Linked DNA regions of Homo sapiens. The protein of the gene in region 1 interacts with the protein of each later gene in a pairwise test. Each region holds a gene or a part of one and is shown in the gene's direction. Other genes may lie near its edges.

Evidence for each region.
Region 2: the proteins of ZMYM2 (region 1) and FOXP1 come close enough for resonance energy transfer, tested with the Homo sapiens proteins (2 studies listed by BioGRID).

What each region holds. Positions count from the first base shown.
Region 1 is NC_000013.11:19,961,727-19,965,326, forward strand, and holds part of ZMYM2 (zinc finger MYM-type protein 2), read left to right. Parts: intron 1-3,493; coding exon of another isoform or gene 3,494-3,555; intron 3,556-3,600. UniProt on the Homo sapiens protein: Involved in the negative regulation of transcription.
Region 2 is NC_000003.12:71,582,009-71,585,805, reverse strand, and holds the start of FOXP1 (forkhead box protein P1), read left to right. Parts: upstream 1-2,077; 5' UTR 2,078-2,235; intron 2,236-3,797. UniProt on the Homo sapiens protein: Transcriptional repressor. Can act with CTBP1 to synergistically repress transcription but CTPBP1 is not essential. Plays an important role in the specification and differentiation of lung epithelium.

The sequences.
Region 1 (3,600 bases):
AATACCAGAATGGTTCTTGTTTTGCTTAACGATTTAGCTTAGAGTTGAACATTTCTTTACTTAAAAACAGCAACTAGTGATGCTGCTATGTGCTAGACAGTAAGATGAAGATAACCTGATGATTTTTAATTGGCCTTGACTAAATAAGTACTTTTATTATACAGTAGGAACATATGTAAATGCTTTTAGATCCATTTACAAAGTATTTTGACAGTTAAAAATACTTTGCATATTTATGGCATATTTCTTTAGTGCATCCTTTCTAATATCTGTTCCCTCCCACCTATCCTTTTAAATTGTTGGGAGGAAGATATAAAGTGGTCCCTACTTTTCCATGGGCTGGGCTTTTGTATCTCATGTGGTGAGACAATCCTGAATCACTCAAGTATGACATATATGCTGACATATGAACATTTTTAACTTCTGTGTGGATATAGAGCTTATATTATCTTTGAACAACAGTTTTTATTTTTTCAGTTTTATTGTATTTTGCCCTTGTTTGAGGTACAGAAGTGTACAAATTTAATATTAATGCATTTGAGACAAAGTGAATCTTTACCTTCAGTCAGATGCTCTGGTATTAATGTGATGGGAAGAATGGGTATGAAATGCTGAAACCCTGGTGTCAAAAGGCATGGTATAATTAGAATTGTTATATTTCCTGTCTCTCTAGCATTAATATGTCTCTATACCATTTGACAATATTATTAATATATATCATAATAAATGTCGTTGATTATGAGAAGACTGGGCTATTCAAATTGCATGGGATATATATATATATATATATTTTTTTTTTTTTTTTTTTTTTTTTTGAGATGGAGTTTCACTCTTGTTGCCCAGGCTGGAGTGCAGTGATGTGATCTTGGCTCACTGCAACCTCTGCCTCCTGGGTTCAAGTGATTCTCCTGCCTCAGCCTCCCAAGTAGTTGGGATTACAGGCATGCGCCACTGTGCCTGACCAATTTTGTATTTTTAGTAGAAACAGGATTTCACCATGTTGGTCAGGCTGATCTCGAACTCCTGGCCTCAAGTTATTCGCCTGCCTCAGCCTCCCAAAGTGCTGAGATTACAGGCGTAAGCCACCTTGCCCAGCCATTTTTTTTTTTTTTTTTTTGAGACAGAGTCTCTGTCATCCAGGCTGGAGTGCAGTGGCGTGATGTCTGCTCACTGCAGCCTCCGCCTCCAGGGTTCAAGCATTCTCCTGCCTCAGCTTCCCAAGTAGCTGGGACTACAGGCACGTGCCACTACACCTGGCTAGTTTTGTATTTTTAGTAGAGATGGGGATTTTTAGTAGAGACAAGGTTTCACCATGTTGGCCAGACTGGTCTCGAACTCCTGAGCTCCGGTGATCTGCCCGCCTCAACCTTCCAGAGTGCTGAGATTACAGGCGTGAGCCACCGTGCCGGCCTGCATGTGATTTTTTTAGCGAATGCAAGGAGAGCCCAAACTCAAGTGTTTTCTCTCATTGGATTCACAAATAGTATTTTATGTAGGGCATTTCAATTTAGGGAAGAAATAAATTGCTTTGACTCCCTGCGTTTTGCTCCTTTAAAAACACTTCAGTTGGTTAATTTTCTTATATTCCTGTCAAAGCATAGAAGTGAACAGGACTTTTGAAGTATTCAGATCAAAAAGTTCTAATGCAGGTCTCCAATATATAACACTTACAAAGTTGTCAATGAGAAAAATTGCTGTTGGATAAATCCATGAATTTGAGTGCAGCAATCTGAGTAACAGTTGCAGCTTATTTTCATATTTTATTTTGGTTGTATACCAGCAAGAATTTTTTTTTTTATGTAGTTGGAGTTGCACATTTTTATATTTACAACCTGGTTTTTTAAACAAATCACTTCGTAGTCTTTGATGTCTCTTACTAAAATAGACATATGAAAAGGGTCTTTATGGTCATCACCAAATGCTTGGCAACAAGATGAGTTGGTCATTTTAAAATGTGTTAAAATTTGGATTATAACACATTTGAACATATCTGTTGTTTTTGTGCATATTTAAGATATATTAATTTTTTTTGGATCAAGCTTTACACAATACTTGAAGCACTTCTGTGGAGCTGCAGAATGAATTTTCGTAAACATTTTTTAAACTCTTTTTAAGAGTTTAAAAAGATGTGCAGAGAGGTTAGCAAAATCACTTGATTAGTATGACTTTGGGATTTGTTCTTAGTCCTGTTTTATTTTTAACTTTATAACAGTCCATTGAAAATTAGAAGTAATAAATTTTAAGAAAAATCAATGCTCTTTAATTTGAAAGAAGGGTATAGCTGTTGGGTTTTAGTTTTACTGATTTGATTAATGTTCTGTAAATATTCATGTTTGCTATTTCAAGAAATGACATAAGAGTAAACTGGTTGGCCGGGCTCAGTGGCTCACGCCTGTAATCTTAGCTTTGGGAGACTGAGGCGGGTGGATCACCTGAGGTCAAGAGTTCGAGACCAGCCTGGCCAATGTGGTGAAACCCTGTCTCTACTAAAATACAAAGATTAGTCAGGCATGGTGGTAGGCACCCGTCATGCCAGCTACTCAGGAGGCTGAGGTAGGAGAATCACCTGAAACTGGGAGGTGGAGGTTGCAGTTAGCCAAGATTGCACCACTGCACTCCAGCCTGGGCAATAGAGTGAGAGACCGTCTCAAAAATAAAAAAAAAAATAAAGTGATTATTCACAGAAATAGATAATGCATGTTTAATAGGTCGGTTTTTTGTAGAGACAGGGACCCACTTTGTTGTCCACACTGCTCTCAAACTGCTGGACTCAAGCGATCTTCCCACCTTGGCCTCCCAAAGTGTTGGGATTTCAGGCGTGAGCCACCATGCCCAGCCAGTAGGTTGGGTTTTTAAAAACTTTTGCACGTTTATGTTTTATTAGTATAAGTTATCATCTTGTTTTTGTTTATTCTTAATTTAGACCGTTCTCTTTAATGTCAGTAGGCTGCCAAGGATTAGGTTTTTCTCTCTTTTTCAGAGGGTTCCAGATTTTTTTTTTTCTCTCTAAGTGTTCCTAGTGAATTTCAAGGTCAGATTAGTTTTTGTGAATTTATAAGTTAGTCTAAAGAGTTTTTAAAAATTTATCCATAAAAATGTTTTTTTATATTACAAGTTAATGTTAAATTGTAATCAGGATAAATTTGCTAGGAATATAACTAATTGTTGCAACTTCATATGCAAATGTTGGGAAAGATCTGTTAAAACTCTTGCATTAAACTTATTTGTCTCTAACCATGCATTTAGGTTGGATAAGAAAAATACTTAAGTTAGTGGGTGCAGCGCACCAGCATGGCACATGTATACATATGTAACTAACCTGCACAATGTGCACATGTACCCTAAAACTTAAAGTATAATAAAAAAAAAAAAAGAAAAATACTTACATAGCTATTCTAAGTAACATTGGGATGCACAGTTAGAAGTTGCAGACAGAATAATGTTTGTAAAATGTGACTATAATACAGTGAGACAAATTCTTTTTACTTTATAGCCATACATGTGTATATTACTCTCTGCCGTAGTCACCTGGATACCATCTCTGGACTTACTAGTGTAAGAATTGACAACTAAATTTTTGGGTTTTGTTACTTAACATTA
Region 2 (3,797 bases), on another chromosome or scaffold:
ACATTCCATACAAACTAAAATGCATTTTATTGGTCTAGATTCTAGTCTAAAAGATTCAGTGAATAGTCTTATCTGGATAGCATGGAACTTTATGCAGCATGCATGCAATGTGAATTCTACCAGGCTGAAATTACCTTAGCAGCCTCCCTTTCTTTTATTCTGTAGCATCAGCGAATGGCTTTGTTATTTTTTTTTTTTAACTTGCGAAAGATACAATTTCAAAGCGATAGTCTTATGCCACCCTTGAAATTAAGATTTAAGTTCTTCTGTAAATTAATGTTTAACAATATTTGTAAAGGGGCATTACGCGAAAGAATTTAATAATAACCTTTTCAGGATATTATCTACAACTGTGCTGGTCTCAAGACCAAAGGGACAGTAAGCCTCTCCCCTCCCCGCAAGGGGAAGTACTTTGTAGGAATCCACAGGGGTGACTTTTAATATATTCTCATAAAGAATTGGCCTGGTGTACACCAGCCAGCCAGTAGCTGGAAATGCTGGTTTGGGAGTCTGGCCACTTCTGTGGTGGTGGGTCTGAAAAAATTTACTTCTGTTAACAACAACAACAACAACAACAACAAGACATAGAGGTCTTACAGCTTTCCAAGTCACGTTTTGGAAACACATACTCTGCTTCCTTCTCTATGCGTATTGATAAAAGTGAAAGAAATACTAGTGTCTTTTGTTTTATGTATGTATATTTCAAAACATTTAATTCAGGCTCTTAGTTTATTCCTTCGAATTTCTAAATTCAACCAAACTTCAAAAACCGCAAAAAGAAAAAAAAAAATCTCACCTTTTCAAAGAATTGGACAAAGCTTTTTGCACGTGACTGATCACTGGGAGAGCAGGTAATTTGTGTTAAACAACGGACTGACATGCTAGCCCCCAGGCGTTTTCCTAAGAGGAGTCGTGGCAAGAACACAGTTCCTGATGCAGCCACCTTCCCCCAAAGTGGACTCGATTGCACATTCCTGCAGTGGCTCTGACAAGGGGGCAGAAGCTCGTCCCACATTCACACTCTCCTGATTCCGAGAAACAGGGGAGAAAACCCCTCGCTGGCTGGCGGGGTTTCTGTTTCCTTGCAAACAGGGGTTTGTCCTTCTGCTGAACTTTCACCTCCCGAACTCGCCTTCTTTCATTGGACAAAGTGCAGAAAGAAAGAGGAGAGACCGAGGGAGGACGGGAGAGAGGGAGAAAGGGGGTTGAAAACACCACCTCCCACCCCGCTCTCCTTCAACTGTCACTGATGGCAAAACACTTTCACTTTTAACTGGAGGAAACTCACATTCTAGCCTGTCCTCTCCCCTCCCTTTCATATTTTTAGCTCAGAATCCAAGCAAATAGCCATCGCATTCCCATCTTCGTCCCTAGTTAACACTCTCCCTTCTCGTTTTTTCCGCTGTCTGAATGGGCCCCCCATTTCCCATCTCCTGAGGAATCTCCCCCTCCGCCCCCCTGCCCCTTATTTTCCAGGTCTTTCCTGCCAGATCCCTCTGTTGCCAGGGACTGCTCTGGCGTTCCCTTCCTCTCTCTGGTCCGCGGGGCTCTGCCTCCCTCTCCTCTTTCCAATCCTGCCTGGACGCCCCTCACTTCCCCCTCCCTGGATCCCTCCCCCCAACCCCCCCCCCCATTCTTTGGCAATTGCGATTTTTTTTTTCTGGGAGCCCGGTTGTTTACCCAGCAGGTGGATGTGACGTCAGGGACGCACAACAGCAAAAAATAACAACATCTCCCTCCGCGACGTGTTGGCCTCTCTCGCGCGCCTTATTTATTTATTTGTTCCGGGATGTCGGGGGGGAGGGGGGAGGGAGGAGGGGGGTGGGCGCCAGCGCCCCGGCGAACGGCAAAGAGGGAGCCGCTCCCGCTCGGGGGGCCGCTGGAGTGCCCAGCGGGGTGCGTGAAGCGGAGAGGGGACCCCTGCGGGAGGTAGAGGGTCGGGCCGGGGTGCGCCCCCGGGCCGGTGCTGCCCGCGCCTCTGCCGCCGCCGCCGCCGCCACCGGCGCTGGCTGGGCTCCGGGAAGCTAGTCCGGAGCGGAGGAATCTATTGTTATTTATTGTGTGGCGGTTGCACGCTGTACTCGCGGCGGCCCGGCCCTCGCCCGGGAGTGCGTGTGTGCGCGCGTGTGTGCGCGAGTGAGTGTGTGCGCGGGGTGCGCGCGCGGGCGGGAGTGGGCGCGCGCGGGGAAAGGCCCGAAAACACCTTAGTTTGCACCGAGAGACCATTTGCAGCGGGTGAGTTTGTATTTTTCCATTTCTGCTCCACTTTTTCCCAAGCCGCCTCCTGTCTTGTTTCCGCCACTTTAAACAACAACAACAACCAGCACAAAAAAAAAAAAAGAAAGAAAGAAAAAGAGAAAAAAAATGGAAAAAAAAAAACAACTACTTTCCACCTCCAGGCTCCACGTGCATCTCCCCCAGCCCTCCCCTCTCTTCCTCTCCCCCCCGGGTCGAGGCCCAGCTCTGGGATGGGTGGGGGCTGCGGGCCGGCGCGCGGGTGGAGGGAGCTCCGGCGGCGCCCGCACCCTTTGGGTTTATTTGCATAAGTCAAATGGGGGCGGGGGCGGTGGCGACTGTGAGGAGGCGAGATCGCCTGCCCGTAGGCCCCTTCACGCCTCTCTCTGCGCTCTCCACGATCGCCTAGGGGAGAGAAATCAATAAGCCCAGGCCGCCTGGCGCAACTTTCGATGTCCGGCGTTGGCGTCCGGTGGCCGCCCGGGCGCGGGGCCGGTGCGGGGTCCCGGGTCCTGGCCGCGGCGGGAGGGGGCGCGCGCCGGGCGCCTCCTAGGCCCAAAGTTTAGACTTGGAGCAAACTTTTCCCCTTCTTTCCCCGCGGGTGTGTGCCCCCTCGGTGCCCTTGAGCTGCCCCGCGGGCCCCAGCAAACTGACTGTGGTGCCTGGCCCTGGGCCCCGCACTGGGGAACTTCCCCGCTGCCACGCGCGCGTTACCCCGAGAGTCAGCGGCGAGGAAGCTCTCCCGCCACCCCCTCGGAGCCCGGAAAATTCAAACACGCACCTGCGCACCCCCAGCCAGACACGCACCCCTACGCGCGCTCGGCCTCCGCTTTCCCGAGACGAGTCCGCAACAGCCGTGGCCAGATCCACGGGTGGGTGCGGGAGCCGGATGCGCTGCGAGGAGTCGCCGCGCCCGGATCTCTCTCCCACCATCACACACATTTTCTGATTTTACCCCCCTCTGAAGCTTGGGGGACGGGGAGATTTCCCAAGCTCCGATTTGTCCTGCGTCGCGCGCGTGTCGCCTCGTCCCTCCGGCCCTGTCCTGGCGGCCGATGGCTCTCCGTCCCTCGCTTGCGCGCAGCCTTCCTCCCGAGCTCCCTGCGCTCTATTCCTGTCCCGCCGAGACGACTCCCTGGAGCCAGCGAGCCGAGGCGGCGTGCGCTTCGAGTGGGGACCACGGCGGTGGCGGCGGCGCCGGGAGCCGAGGAGTTTGCCAGTTGCCGCGGGGTCGCGGTCATTTGCTGCCTCCGCCTTCCCTCGCCCCCGCCTCCCGCCTCCCTCCTTTTCAGACAACGTCGCGCTCGGAAACTTAGATTCCTTCTTCTTTTTGGCCCTCGACGAGCCCCCCTCCCCACCTGTTGTGAGCTCCGCCTTGGTCCCGGGAGACTGGCAGTGACACACACGGGCTCTGGGGAGCTCCGCTCCCGGAAACAAAGTCGCATGCCCCCCTCCCATGTGTTTGCTTCGAAATCGCTGCCTGCAGCCCCCCATTCCCGCGCAGCTCCCGCCCCCTGTGAGAATAAGGACTAAATAAACAGTTGTAACTCCAAACCTTGCGC